Linked DNA regions of Homo sapiens. The protein of the gene in region 2 interacts with the protein of the main gene of each other region in a pairwise test. Each region holds a gene or a part of one and is shown on either strand. Other genes may lie near its edges. The genes, in order: IFITM3, CD53 and AIG1.

Region 1 (3,485 bases), on a different chromosome or scaffold from region 2:
GATAATCCAGCTGCCTGGGCACCACACTGAAGGTAATGGGATAATCCGGCTGCCTGGGCACCACAGTGAGGGTTATGGGATAATCCAGCTGCCTGGGCACCATAGTGAAGGTAATGGGATAATCCAGCTGCCTGGGCACCACAGTGAGGGTTATGGGATAATCCAGCTGCCTGGGCACCACACTGAAGGTAATGGGATAATCCGGCTGCCTGGGCACCACACTGAAGGTAATGGGATAATCCGGCTGCCTGGGCACCACAGTGAGGGTTATGGGATAATCCAGCTGCCTGGGCACCATAGTGAAGGTAATGGGATAATCCAGCTGCCTGGGCACCACAGTGAGGGTTATGGGATAATCCAGCTGCCTGGGCACCACACTGAAGGTAATGGGATAATCCGGCTGCCTGGGCACCACACTGAAGGTAATGGGATAATCCGGCTGCCTGGGCACCACAGTGAGGGTTATGGGATAATCCAGCTGCCTGGGCACCATAGTGAAGGTAATGGGATAATCCAGCTGCCTGGGCACCACACTGAAGGTAATGGGATAATCCGGCTGCCTGGGCACCACACTGAAGGTAATGGGATAATCCGGCTGCCTGGGCACCACAGTGAGGGTTATGGGATAATCCAGCTGCCTGGGCACCATAGTGAAGGTAATGGGATAATCCAGCTGCCTGGGCACCACAGTGAGGGTTATGGGATAATCCAGCTGCCTGGGCACCACACTGAAGGTAATGGGATAATCCGGCTGCCTGGGCACCACACTGAAGGTAATGGGATAATCCGGCTGCCTGGGCACCACAGTGAGGGTTATGGGATAATCCAGCTGCCTGGGCACCATAGTGAAGGTAATGGGATAATCCGGCTGCCTGGGCACCACAGTGAGGGTTATGGGATAATCCAGCTGCCTGGGCACCATAGTGAAGGTAATGGGATAATCCAGCTGCCTGGGCACCATAGTGAAGGTAATGGGATAATCCAGCTGCCTGGGCACCATAGTGAAGGTAATGGGATAATCCAGCTGCCTGGGCACCATAGTGAAGGTAATGGGATAATCCAGCTGCCTGGGCACCATAGTGAAGGTAATGGGATAATCCAGCTGCCTGGGCACCATAGTGAAGGTAATGGGATAATCCAGCTGCCTGGGCACCACAGTGAGGGTTATGGGAGACGGGGTTTCACCGTGTCAGCCAGGATGGTCTCGATCTCCTGACCTCATGATCCTCCCACCTCAGCCTCCCAAAGTGCTGGGATTACAGGCGTGAGCCGCGGCGCCCGGCAGAGGTGAGGGCTTTGGGGGAACGGTTGTGGGGCCTGGAGTGTGGAGGCGTCAGCGCAGGCCTGGCAGGAGCCCTGAACCGGGACAGTGGGGTCCTGCAGCTGCTGGCCTGGGGTGTGGAGACCCCCAACACAGGGGAAGTCTCCAGGACCCCACACCACTAACAAGATGAGCCTTGTGCTCCCTTGGGCTCTAGAGAGGAAGCCCCTCTTAGCCCTCAGCCCCTCTTTCCTCCCTCTCCTAAAGTAATTTGATCCTCAGGAATTTGTTCCGCCCTCATCTGGCCCCGGCCAAATCCCGATTTGACAAATGCCAGGAAAAGGAAACTGTTGAGAAACCGAAACTACTGGGGAAAGGGAGGGCTCACTGAGAACCATCCCAGTAACCCGACCGCCGCTGGTCTTCGCTGGACACCATGAATCACACTGTCCAAACCTTCTTCTCTCCTGTCAACAGTGGCCAGCCCCCCAACTATGAGATGCTCAAGGAGGAGCACGAGGTGGCTGTGCTGGGGGCGCCCCACAACCCTGCTCCCCCGACGTCCACCGTGATCCACATCCGCAGCGAGACCTCCGTGCCCGACCATGTCGTCTGGTCCCTGTTCAACACCCTCTTCATGAACCCCTGCTGCCTGGGCTTCATAGCATTCGCCTACTCCGTGAAGGTGCGTATGGCCCCAGGGAATGCTCAGAGGGTGCCGCTGAGCCTGGAGCTCCACCTGCCCACATGCTGCCTGGGGTGGGGACTTGTGTGTCCCTGTGACTGTGAGTTTGTGTGCACCTCTGTCCCGTGTGTGCCCACGTCAGTGGCTTTGTCTGTGTGATCTGTGTGTGTGTGTGGCTTGGGGAATCTGCCCAGTGCAGGTTTAGGAGGAGGCTCCAGGAGGCTGGCTGGCTGGCTCAGAGTCTGTCCCCGGCTATCCACTAGCCCAGAGCAGTTCTCCCTATAGCCCAGTAAGAAATTACACCTTCACCTTCCAGACTGGCACCCAGGCTCTCCCAGAAAGTGAGAAGGGAACTCACAGGTGACTTCACCCCATGGTGGGGAGAACAGCCTGTGCTGAGGTCAAGGCAGAAGGAGGATGAGCCCCGAGGCTCCTGGAGAGTCTGAGCCCGGGTGAGGAAGGGGAGGAGGTGGTCCCTGATCTCAGGGCGGGGAGAGCCAATGAGGAGACGGAGCCATAGCACGCGGCTCTCAGCTGGGGGATCCTGGTCCCCTCACCATCTCCTCTCCCCCAGTCTAGGGACAGGAAGATGGTTGGCGACGTGACCGGGGCCCAGGCCTATGCCTCCACCGCCAAGTGCCTGAACATCTGGGCCCTGATTCTGGGCATCCTCATGACCATTCTGCTCATCGTCATCCCAGTGCTGATCTTCCAGGCCTATGGATAGATCAGGAGGCATCACTGAGGCCAGGAGCTCTGCCCATGACCTGTATCCCACGTACTCCAACTTCCATTCCTCGCCCTGCCCCCGGAGCCGAGTCCTGTATCAGCCCTTTATCCTCACACGCTTTTCTACAATGGCATTCAATAAAGTGCACGTGTTTCTGGTGCTGCTGCGACTTCACCTGGGGAGGGGTCTGGCTGAGGGTTCGGAGCGTGGTTCTGAGACTGAGCAGGTTGGTCAGCCCCTGCACTGCCCCTTCCGGCCTCTGTGCATCTCTTGGGGACCGGGCAAGTGCTCAGGCCTTCTGGTTTCGGGCCTCCTGCCGTGAGCAGCAGCTGGATCCAGGACCCTGGGAGGAGTTCCTGTGTCCTGCAGGTCTCAGCTCCTACTCAACGTGGGCTCTTTCCGGGAACGTCAGTGCTGAGTCCGGGACACCCTGGGCCCAAGGCCACGCTCGCGGCCTGTCGGCAATCCAGGCTGTCGGCTCAGGACAGAGGGAAGGGTTAAGCCCCCAGCAGGGCCAGGGAGGGGCAAGGTGGCACCGGCTCCCCAGCTGCTCCCAGGCCCTGCTCTGTGGTGCTGGGGACCTGGCTTTAGTTCCTCGGGGTGGAGGGGGCACCGCGCTGCCTGCCTCCGAGCTGTCTGGAGCAGCCAGTCCTGCAGATGTGGGCAGCTCAGGGCCCGTGGGAGGGAGGGGGCTTTGTGCCCAGGGCAGCAGCTGAAGGAGCCCCGGGCCTCGCAGCCCCTCCTGGGTGACCAGGTGCTGCTTCGTGGCAGCTGCCCCCTCCCGTCCAGCGGGTATGGGCCCTGCTCCC
Region 2 (3,750 bases):
AAAACATTTGCCTTACCCCATGTCTGCTATCTTCCATCCTTTGCCATTAGTCTGACAACTATCTGAGAAGAGGGACTTTTTAAAAAATTCTTTCTCTTGGCTCCAGTTTAAGAGTTGACCCATACAGACTGGGCGCAGTGGCTTACGCCTATAATCCCAACACTTTGGGAGGCCGAGGCAGGTGGATCACCTAAAGTCGGGAGTTAGAGACCAGCTTGACCAATATGGAGAAACCCTGTCTCTACTAAAAATTCAGAATTAGCCGGACATGGTGGCGCATGACTGTAATCCCAGCTACTCGGGAGGCTGAGGCAGGAGAATGGCTTGAACCCGGGAGGCGGAGGCTGTGGTGAGCTGAGATCATGCCATTGCACTCCAGCCTGGGCAACAAGAGTGAAACTCCATCTCCAAAACAACAACAAGAAGAAAAAAACAAAACAAAAAACCACCACCAAAATGTTGAACCATAATGGAAAAAAGATTAACCAAATGATTTAAGGAAGAACCAATGTGATTAGAAACCCACGCCTATTGGTAGAGTGGCACTGTTACACCAAGCTCTGTTCTGGGAACACTACAGAAATGTAGAGCTCAGTGCTCTACAGGCACTGTGCTTACAGGCAAAACCTAAGCCTTAAGGTACTCCTCAGGATAGTACCTGATAGGGAACATGCAAAAGGCTGTAGCATCTCTCACATTAGACCTCAATGGCTGCAGCCAGAGCCCTCACCTAAGTTGGATCTCTCTACGGAGTATCTTGTGCAGACATGAGTTAAGGAAGCATCCTTTGGCATTTGGGGAGGAAAGAGCCTAGAAATTATTTTCCATTAGTTAGCGACTCTCAGTCAGAATCTGAAAGTACATAATAATAGCTAGCATGAGGAGGATTTTGGAAGATGGATGACACCTGATTTCATCCAGACATAAAGAAAAAATAAAATGCTATAAAGGGGAATTACAATAATGACAAAAGTCATTATTAGCAATATAAAAATGGCTACAAGGGGGATAGCAATGCCCTCTTTCACCTGTCCGTGGGACCCTAGTCATACATAATATACTATTGGTCTGGGCAGACTTGGCTGATCTGAGGTACCAATCTCATTTTCCTATGATCTTTCTGTGCCTATAAGTGATCTACCAAGAAACATCTTGCCTGGGATTTAGGCACCATCTCCCCGACTTGGGGCACCACATCTGCTGTAAGGACTCACCGACATAAGCAGACACTTGTTTTCCTTGATAGAGCCCATGCAGCCCAGGAAGGCAACTACCATGATAATAGAGCCCACGATGACAAACACATTGCCCAGCGTGAGGGAGGGGAGGTTATGGAAGAGCACTCCGAAGTTGTTGTGGATCAGCAGGTAGATCCCAAAGCCCAAAATGCAGCAGCCACAGATCTGAAAGGAAGAATCCCACAACATCCTGAAGCAAAATGTGGTTCTTGGGTATCTCCTCATATTCTCACTTCCTTGAGATCAGAATCACTTTATTTTTAACTGGCTCAATCAAGAGTCTCATGAACAATTTCTTTACCAAACTTTTCCATGCTTACATTGGAGAGGCAATCTCAGCTTTCTCATGTGGAGACCTACTCACAACTCTTCCTACCCATCTCCAGATACCAAGGAAAGATCACTTCTGTGAGCCACACAGTATCTTCACCATATATAGGTCTAACTTCTTTTTCCTTATCTTTTCAGTCGCTCACACATGGCTTTCTCTGTAGAAACCATGACCATGTAGAGAAGATGCCCTGCTTGAGGAAGCTCATCTTGCTAGGCAGAAAACTAGAGAAGCCAAACTTATAATAATCTTCTCATATACACAAGTACCAACCCATCCTATATCTGAAATTCAATTGCTGAATTTTATACAGTGAAACCTCCCTGGAAAGGGTGACTTTCCTTTCAATCACTTATTGTTTCAAGGAATCTAGAAAAAAAGACAAGAAAAACAGAGGCACTCAATATCCAGAGCACAGTCTCAGGTTTCTCACCTATATATGTTAGCTACGAGTAGTAGTAAACTAAAGCCCTCAGAGAGAAACAGCACCTCCATTAATAACTGCACTGGTACCTTTCAATTTTGCAGGTTTATTCTGTGGCAGGAAGAGGGGAAAAATTATTACTCTTTTGTTTCTAGGATGGTTGTGCTGGACATGACCCAAACACGCATGCATTTTACCCCACACCAGCCTCTTCAGTAGAGGAATGAGGAGAGCTTAGCTGGGTAAAGGTGAGCTAAACCGTGCTCAGAAGAGATACACTTACCCAAAAGAGCAAGTTGAAGAAAAACAGGACATACTTCAGCAGTTTCAAGCTACTCATGCCCATGCCGTGATATTCTTGCCCTAAGGAATAAGGAAGAAGAAAGTAAGTTACCTCACTCTGTAAGGTAGCCAGAGATCAGAGTGCACAAATGTTCAGGGATCTCTAGCATTACCTTGGGTTTGAGCTGTGGCTCTCCTCTGGAAAGTTTCCCCAAACTCTGCGCTTTCCTAGTTCTAAACTGAAATACCAACTGGCTCATCTTAGACATTCAGTTTTTGCCCAATTCGGCAAGCCAACAATGCTTAACATTGAATTAAGTATTGTAGAAGAAAATAGAGCCATTCTTAGAAGAGGATGAGTCACAGTGACAGAGACCAGGCCAGTGCTTTAGCTCTAACTGCAGCATTAGCAACTAGTGCCTGGGCACTTAAGCCCTTGAAGTCAGGGATGGACTGGTCAATCAGCCATCAAGAAAGCCAACAGCTTGATCAGCCAGTTTCTTAAATACTCTGTGATTTATGTACATGCTACATTTGATCAGTAAACTTCTCCACATGAAAGTAGGGGGAACATATCCACGCCTCATTTATTCTTTTATTGCAGAAACATTTATGTTTTCTGTTCTAGATGTTGTGGAAGATGCAACCATGACTAAGCAGTAGCTATCCTCCAGAAGACAACAGTCTTACAGCAAAGATAAAACAAGCCAACAAATATGCAATGGGGAAGTAAAAAGAGATAGCAATGTAAGCTTTATTTTTTTCAACTAGAATATCATTTTCTTAGTGAGGACATCAATGTCCAATGTCTGGTTCTCAATTCTAGAAATCCAGATACAGAATTTTGACTTTTCCTTTTCGCTTTCCTTTCCTTTCTCTTTCTCTTTCTCTCTTTCTTTCTTTCTTCTTTCAGGGTCTCAATCTGTCACCCAGGCTGGAGTGCAGTGGCACAATCTCAATTCACTGCAACCTTCACCTCCCAGGCTCAAGTGATCCTCCCACCTCAGCCTCCCAGGTAGCTGAGACTAAAGGCATGCACCATCATGCCCGGATAATTTTTGTATTTTTAGTAGAAACGAAGTTTCACCATGTTGCCTAGTCTGGCCTCAAACTTCTGACCTCAGGTGATCCGCCTGCCTCGGCCTCCCAAAGTGCTGGGATTACAGGCATGAGCTACCGCACCTGGCCAGAATTTTGAATTTTCTGTCAGAGGTAATGATATTCTATAAAGTGACTCATTTTTAAAACCGTGCACAGGACTGATATATCAAGCAGAATGTTGGGGCAGTGATTTTTTTCCATTAAAATTATGCCTTTTCCAGTGCATGGGTCACTTGTGCAATCCATAGTATCTCCTTTGCAGTTTCAAGGTACCTGGGAATCACATGGTCTTGAGGGAATAGTTCATCCAGGCTGTAGATAAGCCTGATGAGCTACTTCTCTTCCACAATAAAGTGAATTTCTCTGTTGTAAAC
Region 3 (3,750 bases), on a different chromosome or scaffold from region 2:
GATCACGCCACTGTACTCCAGCCTGGGCGACAGAGTGAGACTCCATCTGGAAAAAAAGAAAAAAAAAATTTGTTTTGGAGTTATCAAAAAGATTCACATTTTTTAAAATCCAAAAATTATAGGAAAGAACCAGGTTCAGTAAACCCATTTTCAACAGGTAATAAAAATGAAAAGGAGATACTAATGCTGTTAGGATTTTGAGATGCACAATGCAGACGTCAGGTTCAGGGTGGCTTTGTCTTTATTAGTCAGCATTTGCATCTAGGAAAAGTTTCACATGATTAAATCAAGAGATGCAATACACTCAGGCTTTTCATGAAATTGACATCATTATTACAAATGGTGCTCATTTGAGGCAACTGTGACATTATGCAATGAGAAACATCTGTCCCCTTCCCTCTCAGGTCCCCATGGTGGCCTAGGTTCATGATTACAGCCACCTTTAGGATTAAATACACAAAAGCCTTACTCTATATATGCCCCTTTGACTTTAACATATTTCTCAAAAAGAAGTGCAATAAACTTTTATTCTTTCTTGATTAGATGGAGTTACAATTGCCAAAATAAAAATCCAAGGTCCAATTCTGGTTTTAAAACTAGAAAAGGAAAAAATGTTATTATCAGTAATGACTTTGGGAAGAATTCTTTAACACACAGTGAGGGTGAGTTCTTTTGGAAACAACTGTATTCTATGTTTATACATATTTATATATAAAAGGTGTCCTCATTGGGGGAGGGGGGTGCTGATGCCACCAAGTTCCTTTGAAGCCTTTTCTCCCCCACTGCCAATGCCCGAGGGGAAGGAGTCTTCAATGGCGGCTCAATCTAGCTCTTGCGTTTAGACTTGGATCTCATTCCAATTTAGGCTTTTCTTTCTCTTCTTCCATACCTAGAAATACAGGCAAAGTGTTTTATTTGAGCATCAGATTAAACCACAAGCAGTTTGTTTAATCTGGCTTGCTAACACTACTCACACATCCACTCATCTGCCCTCACTTCTCCCATTCACCCTCCTGACACACCCCCTATTCCCTCCTAGCTAAGAAGGAAAGCCATGCACAACTTTCTCCAGAAACATCCTCAGTGACCTCTCTTCCCCACCCTTTCCACAGAATCAGGACACAGCATCTCTGGGACACACCCAGCTCCTATGGCCTCTGGGAGACAAGGCTTCAAGTTGATTCATGACTTGCTGAGTTTGCATGGAAATCCCAGCTAGACTGCTTTTTAAACCAGCTTCTGGCAACATGAGGTGTGCAACTCATGAGTTTCAAACAGACTTCATTTATTTTTACTTTAGTCCTGTCTCTTCCTAAGGCAAGGACTTTGGATTTTAAAAAGCCATGCTTTTTTTTTTCTTGTTTTCTTTTTAAAGTTCATAGAGAGTTTATTAGCCATAAGAGCTGTTTATTTCCATACTCATGAATCTTAAACTGCAATTCTCTCTCTATTCAACCCAATCCTGGTAGAATCATGTTTTTCTTCCTGAAGGACTTGTATGTACTGGACCAGTAAGAACCTTTGCCTGTTGTCTGTAGAGAATAGTCGATGATGTTTCATGTTCCTGAAGATGAAAATGTTCATCATTTTTAGGAATTATAGTTAAATCTGGCAAGTGCTTCTTGCTTTTTTCTTTTTCTTGTACCTAAACATTTTTTGAATCATACCAAATTCTCAGTTTCTTTGTTTCAATAGCAAAAATGAAACAAAATAACTTAAAATACCACTTTGCAGGTTTTGTTAGTATTCTTTCATAAATTGCAAGCTTTCTGAGGGTAGGGCCCTTCCCTATTTTGTTCCCCAGCACCTAACATAGTGTGTGTGTCTCATTGCAGGAGCTCAATTAATCTTTGCTGAATAAAATTAATAAGCAATGAACACAGAGAAGACCTCAGAAGCCTGGACTAGTGGAAAGCAGAACAAAATATGGGACTCCACAATATGAAAATTATAAAATTTAACCCCAGAGGGTCATAATGTTAGGGCTTACAATAGGAAGGACTCCCCCACCACATAACCCCAGCTCCTGGTATATGTTTTGTGCTGTCAGAGTAGTGGTGGTGGAATGTGGGTAACGTGCTCTGAATGAATGTCCCCAGATGATCTTTTATGTTTGGTTTTCATGGCTAAGGAACTGGCAGAGATCTGGAGCACTTTTTCCAAAGTCCTTCTCAGAAATCCTATGAAGGAAAACTTCAAATTGAGGAGTAAGGACATCTGACGGGAGGAGGAACAGGTTTGAAGGCAAGAAGGTACAACACGCCTTCGTTGTTGGGTAACCACGGAAAGAAGAAAACAGCACAGATTCAGCTCAAACAGCACATGTGTCTTGAACCTCAGCTCTGTCCATATTCCCTCTCCTGTGGAGAAGCTATCAGGGGCTAAGAGCAGTTTGCTTTTCTTTTTAAAGTCTGTTTTTTCCAAAGCGTTCTCCTGCAGATGGGTTGACTTGGCAGCAGTGCTGGAATCTTCAAAAGCGCGGGTGGAGAACGGGGGGTATTCATTGACCTAGAGAGGGAAAATGGCTTCCCACCTACTTTAGTTTGGCAGCTGTGAGGTAGACAGAAAAAATTAGACAGCTGTAAATAATGTTTGCAAGAACCAGAGATAAAATTTCCAGGCAAAGGGCAGGAAGAAACCTATCGCAAAGCGAAGGCAGGATACACTTTTGGGACCAGAGGGGACAAGACTGCAGGGCGCTGAGGGAGTCAGTCACATGCCCTTCCTGCAGGCCGGTGGAGGGCTCCACCAGGGGGCAGTGCTGGGACATCGCTAGACCTGGATGGGCCTGGGGGGAAATGACCTGCACGGGTAGCTGGAGGAGAAGAGGTGCAGGTTTCTGCACACATAGACGTCTCCTGTCTCCCCGCTTGCCTACTTTCTCTGTCCTCACACCAACCTTTTGGTTTTGAAAAGACTCATTTCTGGTCTTACAAAATGTAGCTTTAGTAAGACTGGTCAGATATACCAAAATTGGGATAAAGTCTTAGCTTAAGTAAAGAAATATTTCAGCTGTGAATTGTGTCCCCCCCCGCGCTCCACCCCGCCAAACTGCTACATCGAAGTGCTTAACTCTCAGTACCTCAGATTGGGAGAGAATGCCAAGGGTGTGGCTGGACAGCCATGTGCTAACGAAATTAGGTACGTGACTCACGGATCCAATCAACCTCCACAGTAGATGCCAGAAATAGAGAGGTGGTTATCTGAAAAAGATCCGCGGAGTGCCCTCTTGTCTGACTGCTTGGACCCCCATGACTTGCATGGGAGGCCAATAAGGTTTTTGAGAATTTTATACCAGCAGAAACATTGACAGCATGGACTGAAAGGGACAGAGACAGGATGAAATGAAGGACCAATGGCTTCAAAGATGGTTCAGCGACTGGCTCCTCCTTGGTTGTAGAGGGTAGAACTATTGCCCAGGGCTGTGGGGGTGGGGCTCCTGTGACCCTGTGCCTGGAAGGCAGGGCTATGCATCCCCTCCCCTGTGAGCCCTGAGGACAGAACATCTAGCCAAAGAGGATTATTTTCAAGCCTTAAAATGGAATGGAATTTCCCCCGCTAGCTTCAGACTTGCTTGGGAACCATGATTCTTTCTTTTTTTTTCCCCCTGCAACTTCTCCCTTACAGAATGGGAATGTATATTCTATGCCTGTCCCACCATTCTGTTTTGGAAGCAGATAACTTTTTGTCTGGTTTCCCAGGTTCACACACAGCTAGAGAACAATTTTGCTTCAGGATGACTCATACCCT

Evidence for each region.
Region 1: the proteins of CD53 (region 2) and IFITM3 interact in binary tests that used the Homo sapiens proteins (3 or more experiments, as listed by UniProt).
Region 3: the proteins of CD53 (region 2) and AIG1 interact in binary tests that used the Homo sapiens proteins (3 or more experiments, as listed by UniProt).

What each region holds. Positions count from the first base shown.
Region 1 is NC_000011.10:319,026-322,510, reverse strand, and holds IFITM3 (interferon-induced transmembrane protein 3), read left to right. Parts: upstream 1-1,650; 5' UTR 1,651-1,697; coding exon 1,698-1,946; intron 1,947-2,520; coding exon 2,521-2,673; 3' UTR 2,674-2,835; downstream 2,836-3,485.
Region 2 is NC_000001.11:110,889,998-110,893,747, reverse strand, and holds part of CD53 (leukocyte surface antigen CD53), read right to left. Parts: intron 2,357-3,750; 5' UTR 2,340-2,356; coding exon 2,277-2,339; intron 1,404-2,276; coding exon 1,215-1,403; intron 1-1,214. UniProt on the Homo sapiens protein: Structural component of specialized membrane microdomains known as tetraspanin-enriched microdomains (TERMs), which act as platforms for receptor clustering and signaling.
Region 3 is NC_000006.12:143,336,778-143,340,527, reverse strand, and holds part of AIG1 (androgen-induced gene 1 protein), read right to left. Parts: intron 2,551-3,750; coding exon of another isoform or gene 2,534-2,550; exon of another isoform or gene 890-2,533; coding exon 852-889; 3' UTR 1-851. UniProt on the Homo sapiens protein: Hydrolyzes bioactive fatty-acid esters of hydroxy-fatty acids (FAHFAs), but not other major classes of lipids. Show a preference for FAHFAs with branching distal from the carboxylate head group of the lipids.